Linked DNA regions of Homo sapiens: region 2 is linked to region 1. Evidence: fine-mapped expression QTL. A gene starts in region 1. The other region holds a variant in brackets. All regions are shown on one strand. Distances are between the middles of the regions.

The links. PIP is the estimated chance that this variant, and not a neighbour inherited with it, causes the effect.
Region 2: its variant is the best candidate, but not a certain one, in a credible set for the expression of SMARCE1 in putamen (GTEx, PIP 0.67).

Annotation. Positions count from the first base shown.
Region 1 is chr17:40,645,599-40,649,994 of GRCh38, forward strand. It overlaps SMARCE1 (SWI/SNF related BAF chromatin remodeling complex subunit E1), which reads right to left and starts at 2,220. Exons shown (of 11, transcript NM_003079.5): 1 at 2,175-2,220; 2 at 198-249; 3 at 1-21. The coding sequence starts at 204. RefSeq lists a silencer at 2,459-2,753.
Region 2 is chr17:39,808,057-39,812,452 of GRCh38, forward strand. The region is part of intron 3 of IKZF3 (IKAROS family zinc finger 3); the gene reads right to left. Among named protein-coding and RNA genes, the nearest start is that of IKZF3, 54 kb to the right of the region's middle. The variant T/C (reference allele first, on the strand shown) is at 1,623.

The DNA.
Region 1 (4,396 bases):
GTGGGGCATAAGATGGTCTTTCTGTTTGAAAGAAAATAAATAACTTCTTGTAAACAACTGAGATATAATACTATGCAACAAAACTACCAATGGTCCTGTTTTGAAGAAAAAAAAATGAGAGTATTTTGGAATTCCCACTTGCTAGGGCATTAGTCTCTTATTAACATAGATTGATAAATATAAAAATTGAAACTTACTTGACATTTTGGAAGATTAAGTTCTCAGTTCCTTAAGAATGAATCTGAGACACTAAAATAAAAAAAAAAGGAAAAAAAAAAGAGAATCAAAACTCAGCAAGCATACGAGAATGTTTTCCTAATGAATAGGGTAATTTAATTGGTATTTCTGAGTAAAATTACTTCACCTTAATTCCTAGTAATTAAGCCTTTTGTGTATTTTAACTAGTTCTTATAGGTCATTTGGTTGATTAGAATTAAATGACTAAAATAAAGTACTGGGGATATTTAGAAATGTACTTTCAGGTTTTTTCTTGTGATACTAAGCTACCTCTTGTATGGAAAACATTTTGCTGACGCCATGTAAACATTTCATCAGACTGATACAAGGATGAGAATAGAAAGTGATGTATTATCAGGGTCCAACGCAACAAGGCCTACCAGATACTGACAGCTCCCTGATCAGCAACTGTATCATGCTTTTGGGATAACAATTTTTATTAAAATTAGGCAGCATTTTATTCCTGGAAGCAGTGCAAAAGGTAATTGGTATGACAATGAACTTCACATTCTCTTATAATGGTAAATAGCTTCATAAATGCTGGGAATAAATTTTGAGAGTCTACCTGAAAAACTTTTATTCATCATTCACAGCCCATTTCAAAATTTTTCTCCTCAAGGGAACTTTCTTGATACATTACCTGGGCAGAATTAACTGCTCCCCCATCTGTATTCCTATACAGTTTACACAGATCTATATTATTATAACTTTTTTTTAACTTATCAATATGGCTAGATTGTATGCTACTTGGAAAGAGGGACCATGTCAGGACCTAGCTCAATTCTTAGGAAATTTTTTCCTAGTATTACCAGCTCACAACATAACCAGGCACATGTGAGCTTGTTCTTTACATCAACATACATCACAAATAGTGAGGTACAAAAAGACAAAAATTCATCTTTGGAAAGAAGGCAAATAAACTTCTATGACTATTGGAGGTATTTGCAACCAAACATGTGGAATAGATCTGATTTTTCGCTTCTATTATTAATTTTAAGGAAATTCCCTGGAGCATAAGGAATGAGTCCTGGTGTGGAAAGAAACAGCTCATTTTCTCAATGGTCCAACCTGAGTCTTTCCCTCTTAAAGAACAGCCAGAAACCTTTGACTCTGGTGTAGATTTCCTTTCTGCTCACATTAAGGGAGCTGTCAACATCCAGCAGGCCTCGCTGCAGGGGACCCTGACAACTAACATAAGCTCCCTGTACGTTATACTTCATTGTTAATACTTTAAAATTATTGCTCTCTTTTGCTAGAATACAAAATTTAAGAGTGGGCTTGTACATTTGTCCACCGTTGGATCCATCTTTGGTGCCTGGCATAAAAATAAATACCCGATAAATATTTGTTCAAGAAATACTTTATACGGGGTACGCTTATGACACTATTTCGCTTAACACTCACAAGTACTTTATATGTACAGCTATCCCCATTTTACAGATGAAACAAGGGAGTCTCGGAAAGTTTAAACAACTTGTCTGAAGCCATATGCAGCCAGGAAGTGCCAAAGTTGGGTTTCAAACCCAGGCCAAACTATTTCAGAGCTCTGCTCGTCCTCAAGTCGCTGCCTGAACCAATGGGGGAACCTTCTGCCCGGGTGGGGGGTGAACCACGGACCTGCCTTGCCCACGGCTTCCTGAGGTCGCTCTCTTTGTCTTGGAGAATGTACTTTACTAGCAACTCCCCTAAAACGGGGTATTCACAGGTGCTTTGACCAATTTCGGGGGACTGGCCTTGCCTCCAAGGAGGGGGCCCCAGATGGGACTCCCTCCCAACCCTCGCTCTGCTAGGCCTCAAGGAGGCCTCAACCGGCTCCTGGCTCTGGCCCCACGGCCAAGGCTGAACCCCAGCAACCCCCGGGAACTCGGGGTCTAGCCAAGCGGGGACACCACGACTTGCACCCACCGACCCGGTCCGTCCCACTTGGAAACACTCACCCGCGGGCAGAAAAAGCGCCCGCAGCTCCGGCTTCGCTTCCCTTTGTCCCGCGCTCGCCCCGCCCCTCGCGTCCGGAGCTTCCGCACTCGCACTTTCCACACTCTTCTTAATTTTTTTTTTTTTCCGGGCCCCACCCGACCCTCTTTAGAAAAACTAACCTTCTAGTGAAGATGCGGTGATGCTTAGCACACTCAGGGATTTTTTTCAGGACCCATTGGATCCTCAAAACTCCCCGAATTTTGATACTTTCCCAGCCGGGCGCTGATTCGTCACGGCGAAGAGGGCCGAGGAGGCCCGACCTAACACAGAATAGGCCTGGGTTTAGCGGCTGTGAGGAGCCGGAGCCGCCGCAGCGACCGAGGAAGTGGCGGGAGGTGCCGAGCCTTGCGGAGGGGCGGTGGGGGCCGCGGTGGGAGACGGCGGATGGCGCTCAGCGCGAGGCCGCGGAACCACTGTGGCAGCAAGCAGTTCGGCCAGACTCCCGCTGAGCCCGCTCCTGGAGGGGCCCTCCCCGACTCCGGTCTTGCTTTCCTTTAGGCTGTGGGTCAGAGTCTACACTTCACTAAACCTGGGATGGAGGCGTGGAGGACTTGCTTCGCGGCGTTTGCGTCCTCGCAGGCGCCTCGCAGGGCTTCCTGCCCTCACGGCGGGGGAGTAGCTTTGGCGAAAATCAGCACGAGTTCTGCAGTTTTTCCAAGCGCTTTTAGGGTGTAATCGTCCCAGGTTTCTAAGCCAAGGCCCGGAGAGTTGACCCCCTCGCAACAGCTTGTGTGTCCTTGCAGCGCCGCGGGTGCCACCTGGTCTCCGCCTCAGCGCTGCCTCGGCTCCTTCGGTTCCCACCAGCGGGAACGACCGTCCCCACTTTCAGCTTAAACTCATCTGTCCTTCTGGATCCAGCTCAGAGGTCTCTTTGTGATGCCCTCCTGGAACTTCCCCCCTAGTAATCCTTCCTTTGTATTCCCGTGGCTCTTTGATAATAATGGTTGGAGTCCTGAACCCGACCCTTTGTATCGGACCGTGTTTGTCATCTCCAGTGCTTTATGAAGGCCTTGAAAGCAAGGTTCAGCCGTCTGTATTGGTCATCTTCCCATTGCCAGTGCCTACGAAGGGCTTGACCCATTCATTGTTAGACGCTCAGTAAGTGTGTATTGAGGCAGCCCTCTGTGCCACTCCAGGGCTCTTTCCACTAAATCATGAGTATGTTGGTTTACCAGATGGAATGAGTAGCCTCTTCTTTGGATACATAAACACCCGATGGATATTGTGGGTCACTGTGGAGGGAGAATGAACGTATGGGATCCCTGACCTGTGGTTACTGGAAAACAGTTGACATTTAGAGAGAGGCTGAATTCTTGGGCTTCCCGTAGCCCCCATCCTGAGTGTGCCAACAGGGACTAGAAGCATCTCTAGTCTGCAAAGCGAGGAACAAGTGATACTCTGTCCAATTTTTCCAATATTGTTATACTCATGAATAGAGATTAATGAAATTGAAGAGCATATTCAAGAGAAAGACTAAAGGAGAAGTCGTCTGCCCCGTGGACAGGCAGCTTGAGTGGTGCTTGAGAAAATGTACATGAAATTGCTTGTTAAAAAATATTCACGCCTGTAATCCCAGCTCTTTTGGGAGGCCGAGGCGGGCAGATTACTAGGTCAGGAGATCGAGACCATCCTGGCTAACACGGTGAAACCCCGTCCCTACTAAAAATACAAAAACAAAATTAGCCGGGCGTGGCGGCGGGCGCCTGTGGTCCCAGCTATTGGGGAGGCTGAGGCAGGAGAATGGCGTGAACCCGGGAGGCGGAGCTTGCAGTGAACGGAGATGGCGCCACTGCACTCCAGCCTGGGCGAGAGAGCGAGACTCTGTCTCAAAAAAAAAAAAATTATATATATATATATGTATATATCCATCAGAGACATGTAAAGGATTAAAGTACGATACACAAAGGCCTCAGAAGGGATTTCAGTACATTCTTTTTCTGGCTTCGTCCAGCAACTCCAGCCTGGTTTCTTCCCTGCCTTTGGGATTATGGTGGGAGGATTGGGCGAGTGCAGTGCTGGGGAGGCGCTGTGTGTTGTCTCTAGGCAGTCCTCTGAAGAAAAACTGCAGGTTTTGGATGTTAAGAATAAAGCACCCTATAGTAGGAAAGGGGTGGCCCAAAAACGGCAAAAAGGGAAAGGAGGGGACCTAAGTGGAGCAGTGACATTGTCTGATACACTTTCT
Region 2 (4,396 bases), 840 kb before region 1:
GATAAACAAAACAAAATAAAATTGATAGCTCTGATACTGACTCTGATACTGACTCTGTCTCAAAATGGGAATGTTTAGCTACCCATTCACCAATGATTACAAGAAGCATCATGGTAAGTATAGTTTCTGAGCTATGATTACTTCCATATGACAAATGCTCAGAAGACTATTTTTAACTCCTTTTGTTCCTGTACAACTGATTTCATTCCCTTTCAACAAAATTAACAAGAATTAGCTTGTTGAAAAACACAAGGGCACCCGCTACTTGACAGTAGGAAAGGAAGGTTAAAAAATCAAGTATAAAAGAGTTGGCCTGATTGGACATTTCCCATACTTAGTTATTTTATTATCGATTTCAGACAAATACCTAACTACTGATTTTTGCTCTTTCTAAATTGGGCTAAAATTCATAAGGATCCAGATACATAAGGATATATTACTTCTTTGTTATATTTTGTGCTTTTATGGACCATACTGTCTCACTTTCTGTTCTGTTAATAATTTAGTGTGTTTTACTAGGCTGTGGTTATTAATTAGTTAATGAGCACTATCTCTGGACTGCAAAGCAGCAGTGATATAAATGCACCTGGGGAAGTTCACTGAGGGTTCATTCAGGAATGTGAGTTCTCTCGTAAGACAAAATAAGAAAATAAAGAATTATCTTTTCTTTACAGTCTGAGAGAGAGAGAGAACTAGTACAACCTGAAGGACTAGAACCGGAAAATCAAGCTGATGGTAAGTAAGGAATAGGTCATATAAAAATGCAAGAGAGAGTTCTGGGCTCCAAGTAATGAAAAGAGTAATAATGGACCATTAAGTAGTGTTTGTTCAAATGTCGGTGGATGGGAGGTATGACCACAGCCTAGGCTGACTTAACAGAAGTTAACAAAGAGCCTTTCCTATTTTCTCAAGGGCTGCTATGAAATTACTTAAGGAGTAAGAAAGGATAACAAAGGCCCTGGCTGAGATTTTTGCTTCTGTAGACGCAGGTGCAGAAAAGGCTGGTTCTAACACATCTTGTCAATGTCTTTAATGCCACCAGACTGATGAATATAGTGAAATATCTATCGTGATCCCATTTTTACTTATTCAGTTGACATAATTAGCAAATCTATTAAGGGTAAGGTCACAAATTATTTTTAGTTATTAAACCATAGGTCTCCATATGTTACTGTTTAGACAGTATCACCCAGTGCAGAATGTAGTTTTCAAGACTGTCATTCCTGCAACCTCAAATCTAGATCCAAATGCAGTCAGTTAAAGCAGATTTCAACCAGGCAGCTAAACGAGAAAACATCTGGACCTACCAGTCAAAATGAGAAAGGTCACATGTTAAACCCAGATAATCTTGTTTATTGGTGTTTGAAGGTTATACACCAAGGGCTGGATTACCAGGGTGCTCCTTTAGGCCTGGCTCTGACATCTTCATTCACCTGCTGTGTGTGTGACGCTTTAAAATCCAAAGCTTTGAAAGTACTGTGTTATTAGTCACTTCCAAATGTAATTTTCCTAATTCTAAGCCTGAATACTATGTCAACCTATTGCTAGACTGCTGATTAGATCCTGGAAGAAACCGCAAGACACAACTGTCAGGGGCAGATGATGTCTATTCTTTTAAAAAC[T/C]GTTTTCCACATTTCCATTCAGCATTTTTCTATGGATGAAGCACCTGTAATTTTCTCCATCAAAATTAAGAAAAGAAAAGGCCTCTGAATAAGCAAGGAATAAAATTAAAAGATTGACATAGATTTCAGGATGATGATGAAGAAAGGGAGATTGAATCTTTCATTATTTTTCATAATTAGTATTATTTTATATACAAACAACTGAACCAAAATTGTTTATGTTGGAAGCAATTCCACATGCCAGTGCATATGAAACTATTATGAAAACAGCAAAGTCAAGTTTCTTAAGACTTTACATGCTTTGGTCAGATCTTTTTAATCTTTTTTAGGTTGTGAACATCTTTGAGAACTGTACTCTTTGCCCAGAAAAAGGTACACATGCCCATAAACACGAAATTTCACATACTATTGATTGATTTCTCAAACCCTGAGATCTCAGGTTGAGAATCTCTGCCTCAGGCCTTTAAATAGGCTCAGGCTTAAAGACACCTCTGTGTTATATTTTGTAAACTTCATATAATAGTGGTTGGCATTTTTCAAATTTTTTGCTCAAGCATCCTCAAAAGAATTTTGAAAAATTATATATCTCTCTTATACATAGTGGACATTAAGTACATACTAAGTTGACATCTATAATTTTTCATCATGAGTTTAACTATTTTTAAACAAAAGAATACAGTTTGTGTATTGTAAATAATGATAGTTTAAACCATTACCACACCCTTTCAAATGTATCTACTTAGGAATATATACATATTTGTGATTTAATTTACTCCATCATGAATTTAAAAATACATAAGTAAGCTTTTCAAGAAAGTCAGGAAATTTCTCTTTGAACTTCTATTTCCATTTCACTACCCCCATGGAATTTTCTCCTAATGTAGTACTCTTGTATGCTTGAGTCATCTATTGTTCATCCCATTATATGTATCTGCAGCAAAAAAAAAAAAAAAAACCCAATAAAATATAGTTACTTTTGTTAACATGAAGTGCTATGTGTCAAAATGTGTTTTCTTCTGGATTGAATTAGCATTACAATTATTAACATACAATTGAGTAAAACAATATAGGTATATTATAATTTGATCAATAATTACCAAATACAAAAAGTAAAATTTATTGGGACTGTATCTCCTAATGAGAAGGATAGAGAGGAAATAAGTTATGAAAATTTGATAAAAGAAATTATCTAATTGATCCTTTGTTTGGCATCTTGGAAGTACTTACACCTTAGAGGTGGGTGAGAAATGTTCTTTTCTTTTATAAAGTGGAGAAGGAAGGCTGGGCATGGTGGCTTATGCCTGTAATCTCAGCAATTTGGGAGACCAAGGCGAGAAGATCACTTGAGTCTAGGAGTTCAAGACCAGCCTGGGCAACACAGTGAGACCCCTCTACAAAAAGTTAAAAAATTAGCAGGGCATGGTGGTGGGTGCCTGTAGACCTAGTTACTCAGGAGGTTGAGGTGGAAGTATTGCTTGAGCCCACGAGGTCAAGGCTACAGTGAACTGTGATTACACCACTGCACTCCAGCCTGGACAGCAGAGCAAGACCCTGTCTGAAAGAAAGAAAGAAAGAGAGGGAGAGAAAGAAAAAGAGGGAGAAAGGGAGGAAATAAAAAAAGAGAAAGAGAAAGAGAGAAGGAAAGAAAGAAAGAAAGAAAGAAAGGGAAAGAAAGACAGAAAGGGAAAGAAAGAAGGAAGGAAGGAAGGAAGAAAGGACGGAAGGAAGAAAGGAAGGAAGAAAAGGAAGGAAGGAAAGGAAGGAAGGAAGAAAGAAAGAAAGGAAGAAAGAAAAGAAAAAGCAAGCAAGCTCAATGGCAGCAGTCTTCTAGGCAGATCAGTTTTAGGAAGAAGGGCAGAGAATATACTGAAGTTGCGGACCTGGAAATTGATTCTCTTAAAATTATCCCATGCAATCCTTGGAAAGTTTTCCCAGCATTTCAAGAACACTACTAAAATAAAAGACCCCAATGCCAAAATGTACTCACATGCTGTTCTTCACTTTAGTTAATGAACCAATAATTATTTAGTGAGCACTTGTGAACACTGCAGGGGATAAATGGATGAATGGATGGTTGGATGGAAAGGCAGAAAGAAAAATGGATAAACACTGAGCATTTACTATATTCCCAGAACTTTGGCACAAAAGAACACAACTATAAAAGACTGTTCTTGCCATGTCTTTGGGACACAATCAAGTACAATAACACCCTGCCACAATACAATGTGTACAAATTTGGATGTAAAAGGATTGCTGATTGCCTCCAGTTGTCTACCCTTGCCCACTTCTCAGACAAGAGCAAGCTAAAGTTCTTATGGGAATGGATAGGAAGTAATTGCTTCAAGATCATTTGGGTCTTTTAAGGTTTACAATTGTGTCCAGTTTAAACTTCACTGTCATTGCTTTGTGCTTTTTGTAACAGTATATTAAAAACAAAACAAAACACAAAACCACCTACTATATTTCATTTACTTGCAATAATATGACCCCCATATTTTACAAGATAAAATTTCGGGATCCCATCTACTATGTTGTGGAGAGAGCTCATGTACTCTTCTTGTCTCCGACACTATTCTCTTTCATGCAAACTACAACACAAAAACAAAAACAAAACAGAACACCCAAAACCCAAAATCCCTTTGGGCTGACAAATTACAAAAAATTTGATAGTTCTGATGAGCCAGGACAGGATTTTGTTCAGTCTTCAGTCCAGTGGTGTTCTGGTAATTGCTTAACAACCAGCTCAGGATCGGGGAAGGGCTTATTTGTGGCAT